7 linked regions of the Homo sapiens genome follow. The protein of the gene in region 4 purifies or fractionates together with the protein of the main gene of each other region. This does not show direct contact. Each region holds a gene or a part of one and is shown on either strand. Other genes may lie near its edges. The genes, in order: NEDD4L, ANKRD13A, ITCH, ENTREP3, ACP2, HERC3 and NEDD4.

Region 1 (3,500 bases), on a different chromosome or scaffold from region 4:
GAGACACTGGGGTAAACACTAGAAAGAAGTAGGGATCCACCCAGCTCCCCAATGAAACCATGTAACAACAATAGCCCCGGTGATAACTATAATTAACACCTACTAAGTGCCTCTCATGAGGCACACAACCTTCACAATAATCACGAGGAAGATAACTCCCCCAATTAACAGATGAGGAAACTGAGGCACAGAAAATAACCTGCCCAAGGTAACATCTAGCAAGTGGTAGGGCCATGATGTGAATCAAAGAGGCCTGGTTCCAGACAGAGGCTGTGCTCTTAACCACTTTATAACAATGCCTCTCTGAACAGTGACTGATTTCCAGCACTTGTTACTATATGTGTGGGCAAAAAAACAAACACACACACACACTTCTCTGGAGTTTATAAACAATTGTCATGGATTTTCTTTTACTTTTAACCACTGAGGATTCACCGTGGGAGCAGCATAGAAGCTATACGCTGTAATTAAACAATGGTATAAAATAACTTAGAGTGAATGTGTTATGGAATCATTACTTTTGCTTTTCCAAGTTGAATCGCCGCATTCTAAATGATCTTCCTAACACAATGTCTAAGAAGAATGGATTTTTAGTACATAAACAGAGCTGGTAAGATAGCATGGAAGATTATGGCTAATTTGTTGTTTAATTCATAACGTTTTAAGTAACATACCATAACTATTTAAAGGGAAAATTACACATTTCTGTTCACCTAAATTTATATTTTCATGGTAATAAATCTCTTCCAAGTGTCAAAGCGACTCAATAAAAATATGCATATGATACCCAAACAAGTTACAGGGCTCATTCAACAGCTCAACTATGATAAAAACAAGCTGTCATTTAATGAGACATGGTTAGACCCCTGTGAAAAATAAATTACAAACTAAAAATATCTTAAGATTTTCATACTGAAAAATAATGTGGGCTGGACACAGTGGCTCACGCCTGTAATCTAAGCACTTTGGGAGGCCAAGGCAGGTGGATCATGAGGTCAAGAGTTCAAGACCAGCCTGGCCAACATGGTGAAACCCGTCTCTACTAGGAAAAAAAAAAAAAAAAAAAATTAGCCATTGTGATGGCATGCACCTATAACCCCAGCACTTTAGGAGGCTGAGGCAGCAGGCGGATCTCGAGGTCAGGAGATTGAGACCATCCTAGCCAACATGGTGAAACCCCATTTCTACTAAAAATACAAAAACTGGCCGGGTGTGGTGATGCGTGCCTGTAATCCCAGCTACTCAGGAGGCTGAGGCAGGAGAATTGCTCGAACCCAGGAGGCGGAGGTTGCAGTGAGCCAAGACTGCACCACTGCACTCTAGCCTGGGCGACAGAGCAAGACACTGTCTTCAAAAAAAATAAAAATAAAAATAATGTTATTCCCATTTCTATAATATAGAGCCACCTATACTTGTCAAATACGGCTTTTATAGGCACTTTCAAATTAATATTCAGATGGTAATTAATTCCCTGCGTCACTGTAATCTTTACATTCTCAACAATGTTTACTGACAGAAGAAATTATGATATAAAATCAAGCTGGAGAACATGGGAAGAAGGAGCTGCCGGGCTTTGCACCATTCTGGGGACATCGTACCTCGGGGACATCCCCGCCCTCCGAGGGCTCGGGCTCCAAGTCTTCGCTGATGTGCCTGCGGGAGCGGAAGCGCCGGTGTGCTGCCTCCTGGTTGATCTGTCTGATGTTATTGTCCGACTCCGAGGACACGTCCCTGAGCATGCAGGAAAGGGGGAAAGAGAAGAAGAGAAGTGGTTGAGATCGGGCCCTTCATGACAGTTCAATGCTCACGGAGGGCCAGATGGCCACTAAAGTGTCAGCGTCAAACACTGACAACTAGCTGGTCATCCAATGTGAGAATTCTCCCACCATATTACGGCTAAAGTATAGGTTAAGGTTCATTTCAATCAAATAAATGCAGTTTTAAAATGCATTAGTCACACCATTTTGAGCATCTTTCAGGCATACATTTCAAAATATACCTCAGTGTTTAATAAAAAACAGAAATCAAAGTCCTCTGCCCATTTGCCACAGTGACAAGTCAGACCTCTGGAAGCAGAGGTGACAGGCAAGTTCACACAGCAGCTGGGCAGTCCCAATCCTTCTAGAAGTCCAGCAATGACAAGGCAGCTACTTCTGGTCACCAGCAATTTGACCAAAGACTACAAAAGGGACAAATTCAAAGCTGTCATCTGGAGGAAAGTACACCTGATCCAACATGAATTTTTTTCAGCTGCTTTCTAGCTCATTTTAACAGAATCTCAAAATCGTGACACTGCATTTACCTCCTTTACCCTACTTTAAAAATCCTAATAACATCAGGAGATAACCTCTCAAGTCAGCCGGGGTCTGAAGAACACCAAAACATCATACCCTATTTTTTGTCATGTGATGTTCTCAATTCAGGATCTAAAAGTTTTGATTCAATTTGGAAGACTTTTTTGGGCTGGGCATGGTGGCTCATGCCTGTAATCCCAGCACTTTGGGAGGCCAAGGCGGGCGGATCACTTGAGGTCAGGAGCTCAAGACGTACCTGGCCAACATGGCAAAACCCCGCCTCTACTAAAAACACAAAAATTAGCCGAGTGTGGTGATGCGTGCCTGTAGTCCCAGCTACTCAGGAGGCTGAGGCAGGAGAATCACTTGAGCCCAGGAGGCAGAGGTTGCAGTGAGCTGAGAGATCATGTCACTGTACTCTAGCCAGGGCAGCAGAGTGAGACTCCATCTCAAAACAAAACAAAACAAAAAAAAAAAGAAAAAAGAAAACTTTTTTTTTTGCAGTAAATTATAGGCAATCATACTTTGGGGGAAATACTAGTCAGAGGCTTTTAGTGTACAAGTTTAAATGCCAAAAATTTTTTCAGGGAAAACTCTCACAGATACTTTCAATAAGATAACATATCCCATTAACAAAAATTATGTCACAAGTCAGTATCTCAAAAGTTGAAATCGTCATTTCAGACTAACTGAAATATAGTACTTATCAAGAACACTCATTATAGACTCTTTCTAAAACACAAATTTTAAAGTTTTCTCACACATTCTGAAATGAACTTATACTGTATCCCAATAAAGGGCCTGCTAGCAGAGGTTGTGGTGGAAACTCTTTTTCCTTAACTAACTTTCCTCTTGCCTTCTAGAAGTTATGCCCATTGGAAGGAGGCGCTCCTCAGGTTCTGCCAAGTTCTGCTGTGTCCTTCCTGGCTCAGCCTCTCCCTTTGGCATTGCTGCCTCCTTGATGGGGCAGTTATGCCTCTGCCTTCTCCCAAAACTACATGTGAGCCCGAACTTGGATTAAGAACTGCATTTTTCAGCCGGGCGTGGTGGGTCATACCTGTAATCCTAGCACTTTGGGAGGCTGAGGTGGGCGGATCACCTGAGGTCAGGAGTTTGAAACCAGCTTGACCAAGCCAGTGAAACCCCATCTTCACAAAAATACAAACATTAGCTGGGCATGGCGGCGGGCGCCTGTAATCCCAGCTA
Region 2 (3,500 bases), on a different chromosome or scaffold from region 4:
TTTGGGAGGCCAAGGCGAGCTGATCACCTGAGGTCAGGAGTTCGAGACCAGCCTAACCAACATGATAAAACCCCATCTCTACTAAAAATACAAAAATTAGCTGGGCGTGGTGATGCATGCCTATAATCCCAGCTACTTAGGAGGCTGAGGCAGGAAAATCGCTTGAACCCAGGAGGCAGAGGTTGCAGTGAGCCAAGATCATGCCACTTCATTCCAGCCTGGGCAACAGAGCGAGACTCCATCTCAAAAAAAAAAAAGAGAAAATGAGTTATGTATTTTCTCCTAGATCACAGTGAGTAAGTGATCAAGCCAGGGTTCAAGTATCATGAACATACAACTATCCAAAATTAATACTCTTCATGAGTAGTATGTATGATATATACATATATAGCATTATGCATACTAGCTTGGGACGTAGATCATATTTACATATCAAAGGATCTTGGTGTCAACTGTCTTCCTCAAATAATTATCTAATTTGAAGTCTCACTGAATTAAGGTTTGACATTAAAACAATGACTGTGTCATGTTTTTATGCCTTTTTATATCTGTCAGCACCATTTGCAAATAGAAATGATGGTTGGAGATCTCTTGACTTTGATACACAAAATGAACCACTAATCATAACACTTCTTTAAATCAAACCACAGGAGAACTCTGACCTCCTCTGTTATGTCTATAAGCTACTTTGACCTAAAGCACTCCAATTCCCTGAAGCATCCTGCCACCCACATGCTGCCACCCACAAACATGGGCAGAACCTCCAAGTGTTGCTGAAGTTTATTTAGCAGTACCTATTTTGACAGGAAATCCAGGTGGGAATTCCAATTTGATGAAATCTCTCAGTCTTGCAAAATGAGCACTCGTTCGAGCCATTAGGTCAATGATGGGAATGACCTGCTCCACCAGAGAGAGGGGAAACTCTTCACACATCCACAACATTGCTTTAAACCTGCAGAATTCAACCAAGAAAAGACTGAGGTCATCTCCACCAGATGGGAAAAGGAGATTATTGCTATGCAGTAGGCTAGACAACAGCAGCTTTACTCCACACTCTGCCCAGTCATCTCTTAATTCAGACCTATTAAAGGTCAAATGTCTAGGGCCACAAGGAATTCACATCACCCTAAAATCTGGCAATAAAGGCAAGCGACCTGCATGACAACCTGCCACGATCAAAGCCTTAATTGACAGCAAGCATGAAGAAATGATAGCGGGTGGAACAGTTTCATTTGAATTTGATCAGCTGAAGCTGGTTAGCAATAAAAAAAAAAAGGAATTCTTACATCCAATCTAGATTCTATTTGGAAAGGAGCTAATAACATGGACAATCTACTGTTAGCTTTCATGGCAAAGTAATTTTAAAATTATTTTTTATAAAAAGGGGCAGAGGAGGCTGGGCGCAGTGGCTCATGCCTGTAATCCCAGCAGTTTGGGAGGCCCAGGCGGGCGGATCACAAGGTCAGGAGTTCGAGACCAGCCTGACCAATATGGTGAAACCCTATCTCTACTAAAAATACAAAAATTAGCTGGGCGTGGTGGCACGCGCCTGTAGTCCCAGCTACTCAGGAGGCTGAGGCAGGAGAACCGCTTGAACCTGGGAGGCAGAGGTTGCAGTGAGCCGAGTTCGTGCCACTGCACTCCAGCCTAGGCGACAGAGCGAGACTCCGTCTGAAAAAAAAATAAGGGTGGTGGGGAGGGCAGTGGAATGATCCAACATAACACCATAAAACAGCACAATTTCTGAAACATACATAGGTTGAAAATGGCAGCTGAACCTCTCTTACTTCTGTGTTCTAATCGTCAGCTCTTTCGGCCTTCCAATGTCCCTGTCTTTCAGATCAAACTCTTCATTGAAGTACTCATCAGGCGTGATGGCTGTGGGGTTGTTTGCAGTAGCACATTCCGTGGTGAGGTCCTGCTGAGCCAGAACTCAGGAGAGTCAGAAATGCCAAATGATGTTCACAAGTGAAGGCCTGTGGCACTCAGTGTCTGAGGTGGACGTGTTAACCAGCTAAAGACCGGGAAGTTCTATTCACTAACTTTTTTGCATGGAACAAGAAAATCTATGAGGATATCACCAAACTACACAGGAAGTGTAATGGATTTCTTCATTTTAAAATATTTCTCTACTCTCCTTTACATTTTTATCTCCTGATTATAACAAAGAAAAAAAGAAAGAAATATCTGAAAGTGCATGAGACTTGGAAGACTTGGAGTTGAAGTTCTAGCTGTTTCCCTGTCTAGCTTTGATAGTGGAAAGGTAATTTCATTTTTCTGACCCGCAGGGACATCCACTGTACCAAGTTCATATAGTTACTGTGAGCATCAAGTAAGAAAATATTTGTTAAGGTGCTCTGTTGCAATATAAAGTCCTGAATCCTTTTTAAGTTCCATTTCTATAAAGAGGCCCCTCGTTTATAATGGATAAGAGGGAAAGCACCTGATTTCTATAATCACTACCCCTCCTCTAAAATCCTTATTTATTTTCAAAGAGTCACTCATCTAATTCTCTTCCAAAAGAGTATCTCAAATTCCAGCTTGGGGGTATCTTTGGCCTTTACATAGAGTGGGCTGTTCAGGATCCAGTAAATGCCATCCCAGACACAGACAAGTTGTTTCCTTTCATCTAACTGCAATGAAAGCTCATTGCTTCAACTTACCCCTTGTGCACCAAATTGGTGTTCCACAGTTCCCAGCAAAGATTCCAGCGGGTTCCTGTCTGCTACAGAGGGGTAGGGAGTTTAAAGTCTAATATTATATCTCACTTGTGGCTATAAAAAAAAGATCTTCATTAAAGTTTCTGGTCCAAGCTACCTCATTAGGAAATGCAATTACAGACTGGCTGATCAAATCATTCACAATAACCATAAACTAATTTATCCTTTATAGGGTGCTTTTCATGAGGATCTCTAAACTAGATAAACAGTTGTAAGAATTAAAGCAGAATAATGGGAAGAGTCTGGATTTTGGAGTGAGCCAGACCTGGATTCCAACCCCACCTTGGCCACTCGCTACCCATGTGTTCTGGGCCTCAGTTCCCTCATCTGTCAAAGTGGAGTAATGGCAATGGTGGTGGTGGTGCTGGTGAACAATTACTGCATGCTTACCACATACTGCAGGCGCCATTCTAAAGGCTTCCACGTCGTAACTCATCTAATCCTCTCAATAACTCTAAGGAAGGTTGGGTATCACCTGCATTTCACTGCTGAGGAACTAAGGCACAGAGCAGAAGTAATTTCACAAGGCCATAGAACTGGTGGGGCTGGGATGGGGCTGGGATGTGGCAACCACATGCAATGTTTTTGCTTGGACCCCAAGTTCTGTCTAAATCTTTCATCACAATAGTTTGGACTAAATCACTCATTCCAATGATAAATATTCTCAAATGTCCTTATCTCCTTTTTTGGCTGAATTCAACAATTGTTCTTGATAACACATAAACAAGCCCTCACGAATAGCTTTAATTACAGCTGAGGCCAACTATGGGGAAACACCTC
Region 3 (3,500 bases), on a different chromosome or scaffold from region 4:
TCTGTAATCTGCACGGTTTCACAGGAAAGCAGTTTTAAGGAGCTGGAAAATTAATAAATGAACTTAAAATACCAAGGAATATTAATAATTTCCTATTCTAAAAGTTTTTATTTCCAGTGACATCAGAAGATCAGAGAACCTGTACATGCTTCGTGATTAGTAATGGGACATAGGGGTAGACAGGACCGAAAAAGTAAACAAGCCTATTAACTGGCAGCGTTGGTTATTTCCCATTACTTATTTCTTTAAGTAATTTTCACCTGTGCATCTACATCTTAAGTTTTATATTTATCATCTGCCTTTTATTTTTTACAGTTAAAATTCTATCCTGAATTTTAGAAAATGAAAGATTCTTTTCCTATTTTCCCCAAATCTTTTATAGCATCTGTCAATGGTTCACCATCTGCCACTTCTGAAAGTGATGGGTCTAGTACAGGCTCTCTGCCGCCGACAAATACAAATACAAATACATCTGAAGGAGCAACATCTGGATTAATAATTCCTCTTACTATATCTGGAGGCTCAGGCCCTAGGCCATTAAATCCTGTAACTCAAGCTCCCTTGCCACCTGGGTGAGTAACTTTTTAAATTAACATATGTTGTCTTTAGGATTCTTCATAAGCCTACTTATTAATAAGGAAAATAACAGTAAACAACAGTAAACTCCATTGTTTTGATGACTGTTTTTTAATTTCTTTTTTTTTTGAGATGGAGTGCTCTGTCTCCCAGACTGGAGTGCAGTGGTGTGATCTTGGCTCACTGCGACCTCCGCCCCCTGGGTTCAAGTAATTCTCCTGCCTTAGCCTCCCTAGTAGCTAGGATTACAGGTGTGCACTACCAAGCCCGGCTAATTTTTGTATTTTTAGTAGGGGATTTCACCATGTTGGCCAGGCTGGTCTCGAACTCCTGACCTCAAGTGATCCGACCACCTCAACCTCTGAAAGTGCTGGGATTACAGGCATGAGCACCCAGCCAACTGTTTTTATGTTATTGTAACTGATTTTGGGGGATCTGGAGTCAAAATGAACAAGGAAAACACACCATATTTGAAATCTTCAGGGCAAAGTGGAAAAATATATTTTTTCATCAAAGGACCCTGAAAGTTAACCAAGGCCAATTAATAAAATAATCACCTAATTCCAATTGCCTTTTTCTTTAAGGGGGAAAAAATCCCTTTTTAATATCAAACTATTTTTTTCATCAGAAGATCATTATAGGCTGGGCATGGTGGCTCACGCCTGTAATACCAGCATTTTGGGAGGCCGAGGCGGGCTGATCACCTGAGGTCAGGAGTTCGAGACCAGCCTGGCCAACATGCTGAAACCCCATCTCTACTAAAAATACAAAAAATTAGCTGGGTGTGGTGGCAGGCGCCTGTAATCCCAGCTACTCGGGAGGCTGAGGCAGGAGAATTGCTTGAACCTGGGAGGCAGAGGTTGCATTGAGCCAAGATCTTGCCACTGCACTCCAGCCTGGGCAACAAGAGCAAAACTCCATCTTGGGGAAAAAAGAAAAATCATAGCAAAGTGATAGATAATTCAGAAAACTGAGAAAATTTGTGCTCATAATCCCATTTTAATCTCTCCTGATTATTTTAAGATTATTTTCATAGATTGTTTTTAAGATACTCAGGTGTAATTTTTTCTTGTTTATTTTTTGTTTGTTTGTTTGAGATGAAATCTTGCTCTGTTGCCCAAGCTGTAGTGCAGTGGTGGGATCTTAGCTCTCTGTAACCTCCGTCTTCCGGGTTCAAGTGATTCTCTTGCCTTAGCATCCTGAGTAGCTGGGATTACAGGTACCTGCCACCATGCCCAGCTAATTTTTTTTTTTTGAGATGGAGTCTCACTCTATTGTCCAGGCTGGAGTGCAATGATGCAATCTTGGCTTACTGCAACCACTGCCTCCCAGGTTAAAGTGATTCTCCTGCCTCAGCCTCCTGAGTAGTTGGGACTACAGGTGCCCACCATCATGCCCAGCTAATTTTTGAATTTTCAGTAGAAACGGGGTTTCACCATGTTGGCCAGGCTGGTCTTGAACTCCTGACCTCAAGTAATCCACCCGTCTCAGCCTCCCAAAGTGTTGGGATTACAGGTGAGAGCCACTGCGCCTGGCCATTTCTTTCCACTCAAATCCTGATTATACCCTGATTGAGAGTGACTTCGGTATCCTAGGTAGACGGACCTCAAGCCTCTTCAGGAATATGTTTTCTCCTAGAGCAGATACTTGCATAGAAGAAATTGAATTCACTGTGTGCCACTGCCTGAAGATTACATTTCTTCACTTTATTCCTAAATTGTATTTGTATCATCTTTCTAAACTGATGTCCTTATTTGCCTTAGTTCAATAATGGTCATTTAATGGAAATGCAAAGACAGGATTAAAAAGCCAGGTAACTCATGCAAGTATTTTACCAGCCTTTTAATTTTGTATTTAAGTTGGGAGCAGAGAGTGGACCAGCACGGGCGAGTTTACTATGTAGATCATGTTGAGAAAAGAACAACATGGGATAGACCAGAACCTCTACCTCCTGGGTAAGTATCTAAATTTAAAAAGAATAATTTTATTTAGTCAGAATTGTGGATTACAACTGTATAATCTTCCCTACATTTCTGTTTTACTTTTTCTTGTCAGCCCTTTCTCTGTCCACTTTGTTTTGTGGTAAGTACAAATTAAAAAGAAGAGAGCTAGACAACTGATTAATTCAGAGCCTGATAAACAATTTTTGTTTTCACGCATATTTCTTTCTTCTTTTCTTTATTTTATAGAAACAACATCTCGCTATGTCGCCCAGGCTGGTTTTTAACTCCTGAGCTCAAGCCATCCTCCCGCGTTGGCCTCCCAAAGTGCTGGGATTACAGGCGTGAGCTATCATGCCTGGCCCTATTTTCACTCATTTCTGACCTAAAGATTCCTTAGGTGGGCTGGGCGCAGTGGCTCACGCCTGTAATCCCAGCACTTTGGGAGGGCGAGGTGGGAGGATCACGAGCTCAGGAGATTGAGACCATCCTGGCTAACGTGGTGAAACCCCGTTTCTACTAAAAATACAAAAAAAAAAAAGCCAGGCATGGTGGCGGGCACCTATAGTCCCAGCTACTTGGGAGGCTGAGGCAGGAGAATGGCATGAACCCAGGAGGCGGAGCTTGCAGTGAGCCGAGATCTCGCCACTGCACTCCAGCCTGGGCGACAGAGCAAGACTCTGTCTCAAAAAAAAAAAAAAAATTTCCTTAACTTTTCTTGTCTAAGCTGTTTACCTGTTTACTAATACTGTAGTTTAAGTATTAGTTTCTTCAAGAGTAATTATTTAAATGAATAAGAATTAGAGCCCAGTCATATATTAAAATGAAGTTCTTATTATATTTAAAAAACTATAATAGCAAAATCATTTCAAATTAATTGGGGAAGTTAAGGATATATTAATACATGGTGTTAAGCCTTTAACATTAACATTAACATTACAGTCCAGGCACGGTGGCTCGCGCCTGTAATCCCAGCACCTTGGG
Region 4 (2,890 bases):
TTTTGTATTTTTTAGTAGAGACAGGGTTTCACCCTTTTGGCCAGGCTGGTCTTGAACTCCTGACCTCAAGTGATCCACCCGCCTCGGCCTCCCAAAAGGATTTATTTTTTGAAACCAGTTCCACAGCTCTCAGCTTGGTCCACTTATCTGTCCTCCCCAAGCTTCAGCTGTCACTTGTTAAACATGTATAATAATAGTACTTCAGGCCGGGCACGGTGGCTTGCACCTGTAATCCCAGCACTGTGGGAAGCTGAGGTGGGTGGATCACCTGAGGTCGGGAGTTCGAGACCAGCCTGGCTAACATGGTGAAACCCTATCTCTACTAAAAATACAAAAATTAGCCAGGTGTGGTGGAGCGCGCCTGTAATTCCAGCTACTAACAGAGAGGCTAAGGCAGGAGAATCGCTTGAACCTGGAAAGCAGGGGTTGCCGTGAGCCAAGATCATGCCACTGCACTCCAGCCTGGGTGACAGAGACACACTCCATCTCAAAAACACAAACAAACAAACAAAAAACATGTATAATAACAGTACTTCAGCCATAGGCATTGTACTCGAAGATGCTGAGAAAGGAGACAGTGGCCGGGCAAGGCTGTTCACACCTATAATCCCAGCACTTTGGGAGGCCAAGGCAGGTGGATCACCTGAGGTCAGGAGTTCAAGACCAGCCTAGCCAACATGGTGAAACCCCCATCTCTACTAAAAATTGAAAAATTAGCTGGGCCTGGTGGTGGACGCCTGTAATCCCAGCTACTAGGGAGGCTGAGGCAGGAGAATCGCTTGAACCTGGGAGGCGGAGGTTGCAGTGAGCTGAGATCGTACCACTGCACTCCGGCCTGGGCAACACAGTGAGACTCCATCTCAAAAAAATAAGAAAGGAGATAGTACTGGGGAACGCTCAGCACTGTGCGCCAGGTGCTGAACAACACCACTGCAGTCCTTGTTGTGGTGGATTGTACCATCTAGTTGCTGGCTAATATGGACAGAGATGCTGGCCCTTTGATTGGGGATGGAGCGTGGGAGCTGTGAAAGCTCCTCTGGGCTTGAGTTCCCACAGGAGGGTGGGCGTGTCCACAGAACACTTCCACTCACTCCCTGTCTCCCTTTCTCTCTTCTCCCCAGCTGACTTCAGGGACCTTTATACCAAAGTGCTTGAGGAAGAAGCTGCTTCTGTTTCCTCTGCAGATACAGGTCAGGCATGTGGTTTGCGCCCCAGGGATGGGGATTGGGCATGGCTGCCCAGCCCCCTCTCCACCCTACAATACCATTCTCTTATCTCTGTCTCTCTGCAGGGCTCTGCTCTGAAGCCTGCCTCTTCCGCCTAGCCCGCTGCCCTTCCCCCAAGTTGCTACGTGCCCGGTCAGCCGAGAAACGGCGCCCTGTGCCCACCTTCCAAAAAGTTCCCCTGCCCTCGGGCCCTGCACCTGCCCACTCCCTGGGGGACCTAAAGGGCAGCTGGCCAGGTCGGGGCCTGGTCACTCGTTTCCTCCAGATATCCAGGAAAGCCCCAGACCCCAGTGGGACTGGAGCTCATGGACATAAGCAGGTAGGAATTCGGGGAGCCAGGAAAGATGTTTGGGAAAGCGTGGAGCTTCAGATTGAGCCTTATTGATGATGCCCTTTCTTGTGTCCCTGTCCAGGTGCCCCGGAGCCTGTGGGGCCGGCCTGGCCGAGAGAGCCTCCACCTTCGCAGCTGCGGAGATCTGAGCTCTAGCTCTTCCCTGCGGCGTCTCCTGTCTGGCCGCAGGCTGGAGCGTGGTACCCGCCCCCACAGCCTCAGCCTCAACGGGGGCAGCCGGGAGACTGGGCTCTGACCTAGGCTTCTTGTCACACTGAACACATCCAGCCACAGGCACCAGCTGGTTGGGACCAGCAGCCCCCAGCATCCTCTTGCACTGGCTGGCACAAAAAGAAACCTGCTGTATACCCCCCAAAGTGTCCCTTTCCCTCCTACCTCTGGGGTCTCTTGCTGCTTGCCTCTGCTGCTCTGGACTGGGAGAGCTTCTGTCCTGTGCTGCATGGGTATTTAGACTGTGGGGGAGATGCCCCTTCTTATAGCACTGGAGGAGGAAAACAAATTCTTGTCCCCCTCAGAATGAGAGTGGCTCTTTCTGATTTGCAAGGGCACTATGGTCAGGGCAAAGGCATGGCCCAGGTGTTTAAGTACAGGGTGACGTGTGCCTATGCAATGGGGTGGTAAGGCAGGCACGAAGAGTCCAAAAAATCTAGGTGGCCTCTCAGCTCTGCCACCTCTAGCTGCATGACCTTGGGCAAGCTATGTAACCCCAATTGCCTGCTCCATTAAAGACTGTGAAGGTAGAATGTTTGTAAAGCTCTTAACAGTATGTAAGCCTTCAATAAATTTCAGTTTTCCCCTTGTTTTCTTGATCATTCTCTGTCACCAGTGAAATTTGTTCTAGTGTCTCTCATATTTAAGAAAACTCTTTCAGGACTGGGTATGGTGGCTCACACCTATAATCCTAGCACTTTGGGAGGCCGAAGCAAGAGGATCGCCTGAGCCTAGGAATTCAAGACCAGCCTGGGCAACATAGTGAGACCCTGTCTCTACAAAAAACAAAAAATTAGCCAGGCATGGTGGGACACGCCTGTAGTCCCAACTACTCAGGTGGCTAAGGTGAGAGGATCACTTGAGCTTGGGAAGTCCAGGCTGCAGTAAGCTGTGATTGAGCCACTGCACTACAGCCTGGGCAACAGAGCAAGACCATGTCTCAAAAAAAAAAAAAAAAGAAAAAAGAAACTTTCAAGACACTCTTTCCAACCACTAATTGTAACTCTGCTCCTCCTTTTCACAGCAATAGGTTTTCTTTTTCTTCCCTCCACTGTTAAACATCCATTCTCTCCTCACCCACCCCCATCAGACTCCTTCCCCT
Region 5 (3,500 bases), on a different chromosome or scaffold from region 4:
TCTGGAGCCAGGAGGAAGCCAGGACACGGAAGTGAGAGACACTAAAGAAGGTGTGGGCCAGACAAGGCCTTGGAGCCCACACATGGGATCAAGTCCTGCAAGCAGAGGTGGCGATTTGTTAAAGGGCCAAAAGTATCCAAGGTTAGGGTTGGAGCAGGGGTGCTGGGACCTGGGGCACTGTGGGACTGGGACACTTTTATGTTAATGCTCTGGACTTGCCTCCAGAGACTGCTCCAGAGTTGGTGACACAGCTGTCCCAAGGGCCCCTCTGTATCTAGCCTGGAACCAAGGTTATCTTGGAACTAAATGACTTTTCTCCTCTCAGTGGGTGGTAGCAGAGGGATCAAGCAGTTATTTGATTTGTGCTCACTTTTGATATGGCCAATAAAACCATACCGACTGAGCTTCTGCGTGGATCTTCCAGAAGTGACCTGGTCAGAGAGCTTCTTGCGTCTCAGAAATGAAGAAAAAGCACAGGAAACAGCACTATCAGTCCAATAGGAAACAGCACTATTCATTCTCTGGGAGCTGCCCCAGCCCTATTCTGGGCCACAGTCTAGAACTTTCTTTTCCAGCTCACAACCTGCATGTAGCTCAGGTCCCTGGAGACCCCAGCCCAGCTGAGGGAGAGCAGTTTCCTGATTCGTGTGACAAGCAACTCCCTTCCCACCACTCCCTACTCCCTCCCAAGTACAGACAACCTTCCGTCCTGCTCCAGTTGAAGGGGTGACAACGATTCCTGAAGCATTCTGTCTGAGTCTAATGGTGGCTCTAGCCAGACACAGGGAAATGTGGCTGGCTGGCTGTTGGGTGATCCAGTTCCTTGGGAGCCAATGTTTGTACCCCTGGTATTAGCTGTTTTTCCCACTAAAATAAGCACTGAGAGGCAAGACCGTGTCCCTCTGAGCTATTTGCCGAAGACTTCAGGCTGGAGGAAAAAGAACAGGGCTTGATAGAAGTGCAAGGTGGATCCAGCACCAACTCTGCCATTTTCTAATCCTAGGTCCTGAGTGAACACTGACTGCCAGTTTACATCTCAGGTGTGTAGGGAGCGTGGAGGAGGCAAATCCTGTTTGGAGAAAGCCAGTGTCCAACACAGCACTTGGTAAACATCAGGCATGGGAATGCTGAGTGACAGGCACCATGGGCCACGCTGAGCCCCACTCGCTCATCTGGCTGGGGTCATCAGAGGGAGGCCCAACCCAGGATCTCCTGTCCATGGGCTGGGGAGCAGCAACAGTCAGGAGCGAGGGCCCAGCCCACCTCCCCTAGGAGGTGGAGGGAAGGGGGCTGAGTGGTTGTCAGGCGTGGTCCTCCCCATCTGCGACGTGGCGGTAGCCAGGAGGCTGGGCCTGCATCCGGAAGAGGACGGTGAGGAGCAGCACTATGAGGAGGAAGAGGATGGAGCCACATACAGCCAAGGCCACAATCACCTCTGGGCATGGGGGAGGCAAGAGAAAGGTCATGTCAGCGTTCCATCATATGCCAGCTACTGTTCTGACATATAGGAGATACACAGAGGTGGCCAAGACAGAGTCCCTGCTCTCATGGAGTTTACATTCTAGGAGAGGGGATGTAATAAATAAGCAAATGGGCTGGTCACAGTGGCTCACGCCTATAATCCCAACACTTTGGAAGGTTGAGGTGGGCAGATCACCTGAGGTCAGGAGTTGGAGACCAGCCTGGCCATCATGGTGAAAACCCATCTCTACTAAATAAAGTTGGCCGTGCGCAGTGGCTCACACCTGTAATCCCAGCACTTTGGGAGGCCGAGGTGGGTGGATCACCTGAGGTCAAGAGTTTGAGACCAGCCTGGCCAACGTGGTGAAATGCCGTCTCTACTAAAAATACAAAAAATTAGCTGGGCATGGTGGTGTGCACCTGTAATCCCAACTACTCGGGAGGCTGAGGCAGGAGAATTGCTTGAACCTGGGAGACAGAGGTTGCAGTGAGCCGAGATCACGCCACTGCACTCCAGCCTGGGTGACAGGATGAGACACCGTCTCAAAAAAAAAAAAAAAATTAGGAGTGACAGGTCAGTGACGAATGTGATACAGAGAGACAAAGCAAAGTAGGTCAGCAGGGAAGGCATCATTGAGAAAGTGAGAAGTTTAACAGAGACCTGGAGTCAATGAATGACATACAACAATCTGAGAAGAGTATCACAGGGCAGAGGAGACGAAGGGCAAAAGGCCCAGATGTGGGGATAAGCCTGGCACATGCTAGTATCATCAAGAGTCAGTCTCACCAGAGTAGAGTAAGCAAGGGGCATGTAGGAGATGGGGCAGGAGACCAGATGGAGTAGGGCCTAGAAGGCCATGGTGAAGAACTTGGATTTTATTCTATATGTGATGGGAAGCCACTAGAAAATTCTGAGAGGACAGTAGTATGAACTGGTTTACATTTTTTAAAAGTTAACTCAGTCGGCCGCGGTGGCTCATGCCTGTAATCCCAGCAATTTGGGAGACTAAGGCGGGCGGATCACCTGAGGTTGGGAGTTTGAGACCAGCCTGACCAACATGGAGAAACCTCATCTCTACTGAAAATACAAAATCAGCTGGGCATGGTGATGCATGCCTGTAATCCCAGCTACTCGGGAGGCTGAGGCAGGAGAATCACTTACACCCGGGAGGCGGAGGTTGCAGTGAGCCGAGATTGCGCCACTGCACTCCAGCCTGGGCAACAAGAGCAAAACTCCATCTCAAAAAAATAAAAAAAGTTAACTCTGCTGTGTTGAAAGACTGGTAGGGACAAGAATAGAACCAGAAAGAACTAGGAAGCTTTTCATTCGGTCAGGCAAGAGCTGACGGTAGATTGGACTGCGGAGGCAAGAGCACATATTAATATTTGAAAGGTTGAGCTGATCTGGCAGTGGGCTGGATGAGGGGTATGAGAAACGGTATGCAGAATGACCCCAAGGGTTATACTGTGCCACTAGGTGACTCGTGGCATTGACTGAAACAAGGAAGCCTGGAAGAAGAGCAGCTGTGGAAGGAAAAGCATCTGGTTTTAGACATTGCAACTTTGAGATGCCTTACTTAACATGCATGTAGAGATCTCAAGTTGGCAGCTGGATATGAGTCTCTAGCTCAGAGAAGAGGTTGTGAATCTGTGAGTCAGGGCGTAAGGACAGAAGTGGGCATGGAGATGGGCATAAAGTCATGAGGCTGCATGAGATCACTTGGGAGTGTGCACAGATGGGGAAAGCTCCAGGGATGAGTCCTGGGTCATCCGTTCTTTAGTGAGGAAGGGACGCCTGAAAGTCAGAAGCCAAGAAAGTGTTTCAGGAAGGGGTGACCAATTATGTAATGCTGCTGAGAGGTGAGAGAAGCTAAGAATTAGTCACTGGCTTTGGTAGGAGGTGACTGGTCACCAGACAAGTATGGCTTCAGGGTAGTGGAAGGTGACACAAGACTGTCTAATGTGAGTCTAAGAGAACAAGTGGTGAGGAAGCAGAGCCAGATTCTAGGCAGCTCTTTCAAGGATTCCATTCTGAGAGG
Region 6 (3,500 bases), on a different chromosome or scaffold from region 4:
GAACAAAGATAGCAATGCTCAAAGGAATGTGTGCCTTCTGTAAATTTTTAAAATCGTTTGAAAGTACAATGATGTGTTAGGAAGCAAAATTTTAAAAAAGGAGAAACTAGGAGCTAGGCTAAATGAGATGATTTTACATGATCATTCACATGTAAGAAATTAGGTGCTCTACAAATTCCTTGGTAAGTAAGCTGTTTTTTTAACAGCTGTATTTAAATAAATGTTAAGGCATTTTATCAAAGTGAACGTAGAATAATATTTGTTCAATATAAAAATACATTTTCATTCTCTCTAGAATGTATTTAGAAGCAAAAGAAACATGATTATTTTAAAACATTAATTAAATTGCTGTTTCTTTTTTACATATTTAAATGACTTGTTTTAAAGGAACATAGGACATCATTTTATATATATTATATATACATAAAATAACAAATAAAAATAACAAAGTGCTGTCTTTGTTCCATAAAGAACCAAGGAATTTATATATATATAAATATATACATTATATTTATATATATAATCTACATTTTTATATAATCTACATTATATGTGTGTATATATATATAATCTACATTATGTGTGTGTGTGTATATATATATATATATATATATATATATATATATATATGAAAAATCTACAAGATTACCAAAGAGGATAACAGAGACATACAAAAAAGTAGTCTTTTTCTATTCCTTTGGAAAACAACAAACCCACATAAAAGAGAGCATTCAAGTTCAAGCCACAATACTGTAATCACACACCATCACTACACTAACATAATCAAGCAATTCTAATCACCCATCATATCCCCAGCACCAAAGTAAAATACTCTGAGCTCCTTACCTTTGTGAGAACTGCTGTGTGTTCTTCTCCACAACTAATATAGACAACTTTTTGCGTGCGTAAGAGTTTTACATGGCATGGAGATTCTCGATCTAGAATAAATTAAATATCAGAATATCACTACCATTTGCCTTTGAGATGAAATATACACAACTATCTTGGCATGAATTTTGGATTCCTGGATTCCTGACGCATGTTCAGTTTCCTGCCTGCATCTGTACTTGGATATCCAACAGACTTCTCAGTTTTAATTTACCTAAAACCTACCTCATGGTTTCCCTACACTCTCCAACCCTGCCCACTCTCCAGCTCACTTTACTACACACGGTTTTCCCCATTTCAGAAACAGTCATTTTGCCCTTCCAGCTGTTCCTTTATTTCAAACCACACATCCAACAGTGAACAAAACCAACTGGCCTCATCTTCAAAATATGTTTAAAATCTGACTTTACTCCCACAACCTCCAAGCTGGTCTTCCAGCTTCCCCCTTGACCCACTACAGCCAAAGCCAAAGTGGATCACGCTTCTCCTCCAAACCCTCAGGGTCTTCCCCTCTCACTGAGAAAACCAGTTATATCCTCACCCTGCCCCTCAGGGCCCTGCATAACTGGGTCTACACGACTTCTCTGACCTGCAGCTGTGCTACTCTTCCCCTTCTCTCCAACTACATCTCTTCCCACATGAGCACCTTTGCACACCCAGTTCTCTCTGACAGGAACATTTTTCACCCAGACATTTACATGTCCCATCTCCCACCTGATTTCCTACAGGTTCTGCTCAAACATTTTCTTATCAGAGGGGCCCTTCCCCACCACCTTATGTAAAGCAGGAAGCTGCACTCTCAAATCCTGTGTATTTACTGGTTTTGTTGCACCTCTACTCACTAGAATACAGTCTCCACTAAGACGAGGATGTTCTCTATTGTGTTCACTGCTTCTCCCTTAGTATCTCACATGGGGCTAGCACATAGTAGATCCTCAAGAAGCATGTGTTAAATGAATGTGCTTTTAAACTAAATACATACATATGAAGGGTTTACCTACCTTTTTCATCACTGAGCCCTAGCTGCCCGGCATTATTCATCCCCCAGCCAAAAACAGCTCCTGAGAGAGACAGGGCAAAGCTGTGAGCCCCTCCGGCAGCCACCTGAGCCAGTGGGATCCCCTCCAGGGACCTCACCCTCTGTGGGCTGGCTTGGGAGGGGAACTCCTTCCCTAAGCCAAGCTGCCCATGGCTGTTCTTTCCCCAGGTGAAGAACTGGCCATCTGAAATAACAGGATAACTGGTATTACCATAAAATGATACAAGCTCCACACACAAAAATAATCTAGTTATTAGGGTCATTTGCCAGTTGCCCCCCAACACCAAACCCACCCAAGAGCAAAGGAACAGAGATACTTCATGCTATCAGACTGCCAAAACCAAAACTCCCAAGTGATATAACAGAGAGGTAAGCTGAGTCTTACTGCCCTTCAAAGGCTATTAAAATTTATACACAGAAAATATTAAATGTATAAGTAAATTCAATTTCGGACAGGCCAATTACCAGGCTTAAGCAAGATCACACTAGTTCTGACCACACTAAGACTATGAGACCCAAGACTTCGGGAGGTCCAGCAATGACCACTTGGTCTGCTCTGCAGATAATCAAGCAGGACACAGAAGTGCAGATTTATTTAGGTTTCTCCAACTCCTTCTTTTTCATTCATTTGGGAGCTTGATAGTGGAATGTAGCTTGAGAGTTGGCTGTCGCTAAGAAAAATCAATCTCCTCCATGCTCAGAACACCTAGGTATGGTCCTGCCCCCTGCTTATCTTCCCCTGTGAAAGTTGGAGCAGCAATGATGACCACCTACTTCATCACCCACACCCTGAGAAAAGGATGAGCTATGCAAAGCCCATATGAGAATTGTCACTGTCCAACAGCAATGCATAGACCCTAACCAGTTAATTCAAAGTTTTCAGTTAGATAATATCACACAAAAAGACAAAGAGAAATGTTTTCAAAATTAACATAGCATTAGCATATGTTTAATGTTACTTTACCAGCCGCAAGAGCCAAGCAATGCCAGTTGCCACAGGAAACTTGTAATATTGTTTGCTGGTTCAGCTTTTGTATTAACCTAAAACAGAAAAGGCTTTCTTTTTCAGATAGATATTCACACACAAACACAATTATCAGAAATATTCCCAATTAAATAAAATGTCAGTAATAAATAACACCATCTTGCCTAAAAGTCTTTTTAAGGCCAGGCACAGTGGTTCACGCCTGTAATCTCAGCACTTTGGGAGGCCAAGGTGGGCTTATCACCTGAGGTCAGGAGTTCGAGACCAGCCTGGCCAATATGATGAAACCCCATCTCTACTAAAAATACAAAAAAAATCAGCCGGGCGTTGTGGCACATGCCTGTAATCCCAGCTACTCGGGAGGCTGAGGCAGAGAATTGCTTCAACAATTCCCCATCACCATTACTCTTGTCACAATCAGTTGTAGAAAAGAAGCAGGTCAGAAGAACAAAGACAGATAATAGAGAAATTGTACCCTTGAGGTGGGGAAGAGGGAGTCCATACAGTGCAAGCACATACTGTATTTTACCTACTTGTCTCCTTCTATCCTCCCCATAACCCTGTAAGGTACATAGTAAGTAATTTTTA
Region 7 (3,500 bases), on a different chromosome or scaffold from region 4:
GTATTTAGTGGGATGTTTAATGTTATCTATAACTTACTCTGAAATGCATGAAGAAACTAAGACAGACTGATGGATAGACAGATAGGTATGTGATAAAGTAAATCTAGAAAAAAAGCAATTGTGAGTAGTTGATATACAACTGTCCAATGTAAAATTCTTCCAACTTTATTATATGTTAGAAAATTTTCATAATAAAATGTTGAGGAAAAAGTTCATTTGTATTTTGAAACATGATAATATATTAATTTCCATGTCATTAAAAGCAAATTCTTCAAAATGTTCAAGCTGCTTGTTAAATTATACTTCGTCTATACTATAAGTGAAAAAGACATACCACAGATTCCATATCATGAAGGGTTATTGGTTTGTGAAGCATCATCTTGTAAAATGGGCGGATGAAAAAACCTTGCAAAAAACCAAATACATTTAGGATGATTACCAAGTGAAAGAAAACAGGTAATTATATTGTAAAAAGTTTATACTTAATACTAACCATCCAACAGTTTGCCATGATAAACTGCCATTCCAGCTACCCGACCAATAAACTTGAAGTAAGAGAGGTGATCTTCGTTACACAATCCAGAGTTTGGATTTATCTGTAGGGTATAATTGTCCCTGTAAAGACAACCCCATTTAAATACTTCATTTGAAAAACTTTAATATGACAAATAATTACAAATAATCTTCCTCCTTTAAGAGTTGTTTACCACTGTTAGAACCACATTCCTCCACTGGATTTAATGGTTTTAAAAATAGTAATTTCTGTCAAAAAGTGGAAATAACCCAAATGTCCTTTGGCAGATGAATGTATAAACAAAGTTTTGTTTGTTCGTTTGTTTTTGAGATGGAGTCTTGCTCTCGCCCAGGCTGGAGTGCAATGACACGGTCACAGCTCACTGCAACCTCCGCCTCCCAGGTTCAAGTGATTCTCCTGTCTCAGCCTCCCAAGTAGCTGGAATTACAGGCGCCCGCCACCATGCCTGGTTAATTTTTGTATTTTTAGTAGAGACAGGGTTTCACTATGTTGGTCAGGCTGGTCTTGAACTCCTGGCATTGTGATCCACCAGCCTTGGCCTCCCAAAGTGGTGGGATTACAGGCATGAGCCACCACGCCCAGCCTAAACAAAGCATTATATGCAAAAATAATGGAATATTATTCTGCCTTAAAAAGGAAGGACATTCTGATACATACTACAACATGGATGAACCCTGAAGACATCATGTTAAGTGAAATGAGCTGGTCACAAAAAGACAAATATTGAATGATTCCACTTATGTGAGGTACCCGAGGAGTCAAATTCATAGGGACAGAAAGCAGAATGGTGGCTGCCAGGGAATGGGGAGCGAGTGCTTACTGGGTATAGGGTTTCATTTTGGGAAGATGAAAAAGTTCTAGAGTTGGATAGTGGGATGGCAGCACAACAATGTGAATGTATGTAATGACTCTAAATTGTATATTTAAAATGGCTAAAATGGTAACTTTTTTTTTTAGAGGAGTCTTGCTCTGTTGCCCAGGCTGGAGTGCAGTGGCGTGATCTCGGCTCCGCCTTCCGGGTTCACGCCATTCTCCTGCCTCAGCCTCCTGAGTAGCTGGGACTACAGGCGCCCGCCACCACGCCTGGGTAAGTTTTTGTATTTTTAGTAGAGACGGGGTTTCACCGTGTTAGCTAGGATGGTCTCGATATCCTGACCTTGTGATCCGCCCGCCTCGGCCTCCCAAAGTGCTGGGATTACAGGCATGAGCCACTGCACCCGGCCGACTCTTACTTTTAAAACAGTGATTTTTCTTTTTCTGCCGATAATCATTGTAAAGGTACTTACGTAGCAGAATATTCAAACAACCCATAATAAGGGTTAAACATTTCCTTTGAGATCAGGAAGAACCATTCTCTGGCAACTCCTCCATAATCCAATCCCTTTTCACCATCAAACTCAATCCACAGTCGAGCCTTCAGGAAGTCTGCTCTCTTGACACCCATAATTCTCCGGTAAGAGTCTTCAAGAACAGTTGCTCGGCGAAGTTTCATTTCAAATTTGTTTGGAATGTCATTCTGAAAATCCAGAGGAGAGACGTACTGTTTAAATCAGTTCAACATAATAACAAACCCATCTCTCATAAAGTTATAACATTCCCTCTACACCCTGTGTCCAAGTCTCTTTTTCCTTACGTAATATACTCAGGGAAAACACAACTAGGTATATTGTCTTGGTTTCCTCTATGGTATGAGACAGTTTCTGCATTTTCTTTAATCACTTAGTAATATAGACTTCTTTACATCTGAAGAAGCTTTTGTTTTTGGAGACAGCTCTGTAGTCCAGGCTGGAGTGCAGTGGCGTGAACATGGCTTACTGCAGCCTCGACCTCATGGGCTCAAGTGATCCTCTTGCTTCCGATTCCTAAGTAACTGGACCACAGGCGCATGCCATCATGCCTGACTAATTTTTTAAGTTTTTGAGGTCTTGCCATCTTGCCCAGGCTGGTCTCAAACTCCTAAGCTCTAGCAATCCTCCCGCCTTGGCCTCCCAAAGTGCTGAGATTACAGGCATAAGCCATGGCACCCGGCCTAAAGAAGCAATTGATGGTGATGGTAATGCCCCCATGAAGGCATTTCGTTAACAGTCCTTTTCATATTAAGTTCCAATGAACACCGTTCTGTGACCTGTAGGATAGCCACTGCCTGCTAGCTGTTGTGCCTGTCTGTTCAGGCTTTTCCCTACCTCTACTTTCCTCCCTGGAGTCTATCTTGCTTCACTCATTAACAGATGGTGACATTTACAGACTGTGCCAGTGATATATTCTGGCTGTGTCCCTACCCAAATCTAATCTTGAATTGTAACTCCCACAATCTCCATGTGTCATGGGAAGAACCTGGTGGGAGGTGATTGAATTATGGGGGCGGATCTTTCCTGCACTGTTCTCATGATAGTGAATGGGTCTCACGACATCTAATGGTTTCTATGCACAAGCTCTCTCTTTGCCTGCTGCCATCCATGTAAGATGTGACTTGCTCCTCCTTGCCTTCTGCCATGATTGTGAGGCCTCCCTAGCCATGTAGAACTGTAGGTCCAATAAACCTCTTCCTTTTGTAAATTGCCTGGTCTCAGGTATGTCTTTATCAGCAGCATGAAAACGGACTAAAACAGCCAGGCATGGGTACCCTGGAATGGCAGGTTAACGTGTTTAACCTCATAACAACACTATGCGAAAGCTACTATTATTGTCTTCATTTTACACATAAAACTGAAGAAGACGACTTAAGAAAGTCTTAGCTCCTGAGTCTGTGCTCTTAATTAATGGAGCTACATTGCCTCACTAATCTTTTGTACGTTCTTTGCTTATGTGACAAATGTACACAACTATGCTTTAGGCAGAACTTATTGTAAATTTTACAAAAGATATATCTAAATATTTTATTCCTCAGTACTTCATGGGCAAATTTCCAGGGGAAACCAGTAAGAGAAAACATGCCATCAATATTCTGTCACCTCCAAAAAAGAAG

Evidence for each region.
Region 1: the proteins of ENTREP3 (region 4) and NEDD4L purify together in Homo sapiens (affinity purification with mass spectrometry; 4 studies listed by BioGRID and IntAct, with this or other methods). This does not show direct contact.
Region 2: the proteins of ENTREP3 (region 4) and ANKRD13A purify together in Homo sapiens (affinity purification with mass spectrometry; 4 studies listed by BioGRID and IntAct, with this or other methods). This does not show direct contact.
Region 3: the proteins of ENTREP3 (region 4) and ITCH purify together in Homo sapiens (affinity purification with mass spectrometry; 4 studies listed by BioGRID and IntAct, with this or other methods). This does not show direct contact.
Region 5: the proteins of ENTREP3 (region 4) and ACP2 purify together in Homo sapiens (affinity purification with mass spectrometry; 2 studies listed by BioGRID and IntAct, with this or other methods). This does not show direct contact.
Region 6: the proteins of ENTREP3 (region 4) and HERC3 purify together in Homo sapiens (affinity purification with mass spectrometry; 2 studies listed by BioGRID and IntAct, with this or other methods). This does not show direct contact.
Region 7: the proteins of ENTREP3 (region 4) and NEDD4 purify together in Homo sapiens (affinity purification with mass spectrometry; 4 studies listed by BioGRID and IntAct, with this or other methods). This does not show direct contact.

What each region holds. Positions count from the first base shown.
Region 1 is NC_000018.10:58,327,226-58,330,725, reverse strand, and holds part of NEDD4L (E3 ubiquitin-protein ligase NEDD4-like), read right to left. Parts: intron 1,732-3,500; coding exon 1,599-1,731; intron 1-1,598. UniProt on the Homo sapiens protein: E3 ubiquitin-protein ligase that mediates the polyubiquitination of lysine and cysteine residues on target proteins and is thereby implicated in the regulation of various signaling pathways including autophagy, innate immunity or DNA repair.
Region 2 is NC_000012.12:110,026,930-110,030,429, reverse strand, and holds part of ANKRD13A (ankyrin repeat domain-containing protein 13A), read right to left. Parts: intron 2,726-3,500; coding exon 2,664-2,725; intron 1,922-2,663; coding exon of another isoform or gene 1,919-1,921; coding exon 1,788-1,918; intron 953-1,787; coding exon 795-952; intron 1-794. UniProt on the Homo sapiens protein: Ubiquitin-binding protein that specifically recognizes and binds 'Lys-63'-linked ubiquitin. Does not bind 'Lys-48'-linked ubiquitin.
Region 3 is NC_000020.11:34,439,773-34,443,272, forward strand, and holds part of ITCH (E3 ubiquitin-protein ligase Itchy homolog), read left to right. Parts: intron 1-382; coding exon 383-572; intron 573-2,435; coding exon 2,436-2,531; intron 2,532-3,500. UniProt on the Homo sapiens protein: Acts as an Acts as an E3 ubiquitin-protein ligase which accepts ubiquitin from an E2 ubiquitin-conjugating enzyme in the form of a thioester and then directly transfers the ubiquitin to targeted substrates.
Region 4 is NC_000001.11:155,246,705-155,249,594, reverse strand, and holds the end of ENTREP3 (protein ENTREP3), read left to right. Parts: intron 1-1,121; coding exon 1,122-1,190; intron 1,191-1,291; coding exon 1,292-1,545; intron 1,546-1,639; coding exon 1,640-1,813; 3' UTR 1,814-2,390; downstream 2,391-2,890.
Region 5 is NC_000011.10:47,238,815-47,242,314, forward strand, and holds the end of ACP2 (lysosomal acid phosphatase isoform 1 precursor), read right to left. Parts: intron 1,436-3,500; coding exon 1,302-1,435; coding exon of another isoform or gene 1,269-1,301; 3' UTR 488-1,268; downstream 1-487. Other genes in the region: DDB2 (DNA damage-binding protein 2), read left to right, coding at 1-35.
Region 6 is NC_000004.12:88,651,480-88,654,979, reverse strand, and holds part of HERC3 (probable E3 ubiquitin-protein ligase HERC3), read right to left. Parts: intron 2,969-3,500; coding exon 2,892-2,968; intron 2,112-2,891; coding exon 1,890-2,111; intron 939-1,889; coding exon 847-938; intron 1-846. UniProt on the Homo sapiens protein: E3 ubiquitin-protein ligase which accepts ubiquitin from an E2 ubiquitin-conjugating enzyme in the form of a thioester and then directly transfers the ubiquitin to targeted substrates.
Region 7 is NC_000015.10:55,840,113-55,843,612, forward strand, and holds part of NEDD4 (E3 ubiquitin-protein ligase NEDD4), read right to left. Parts: intron 2,052-3,500; coding exon 1,822-2,051; intron 616-1,821; coding exon 494-615; intron 406-493; coding exon 335-405; intron 1-334. UniProt on the Homo sapiens protein: E3 ubiquitin-protein ligase which accepts ubiquitin from an E2 ubiquitin-conjugating enzyme in the form of a thioester and then directly transfers the ubiquitin to targeted substrates. Specifically ubiquitinates 'Lys-63' in target proteins.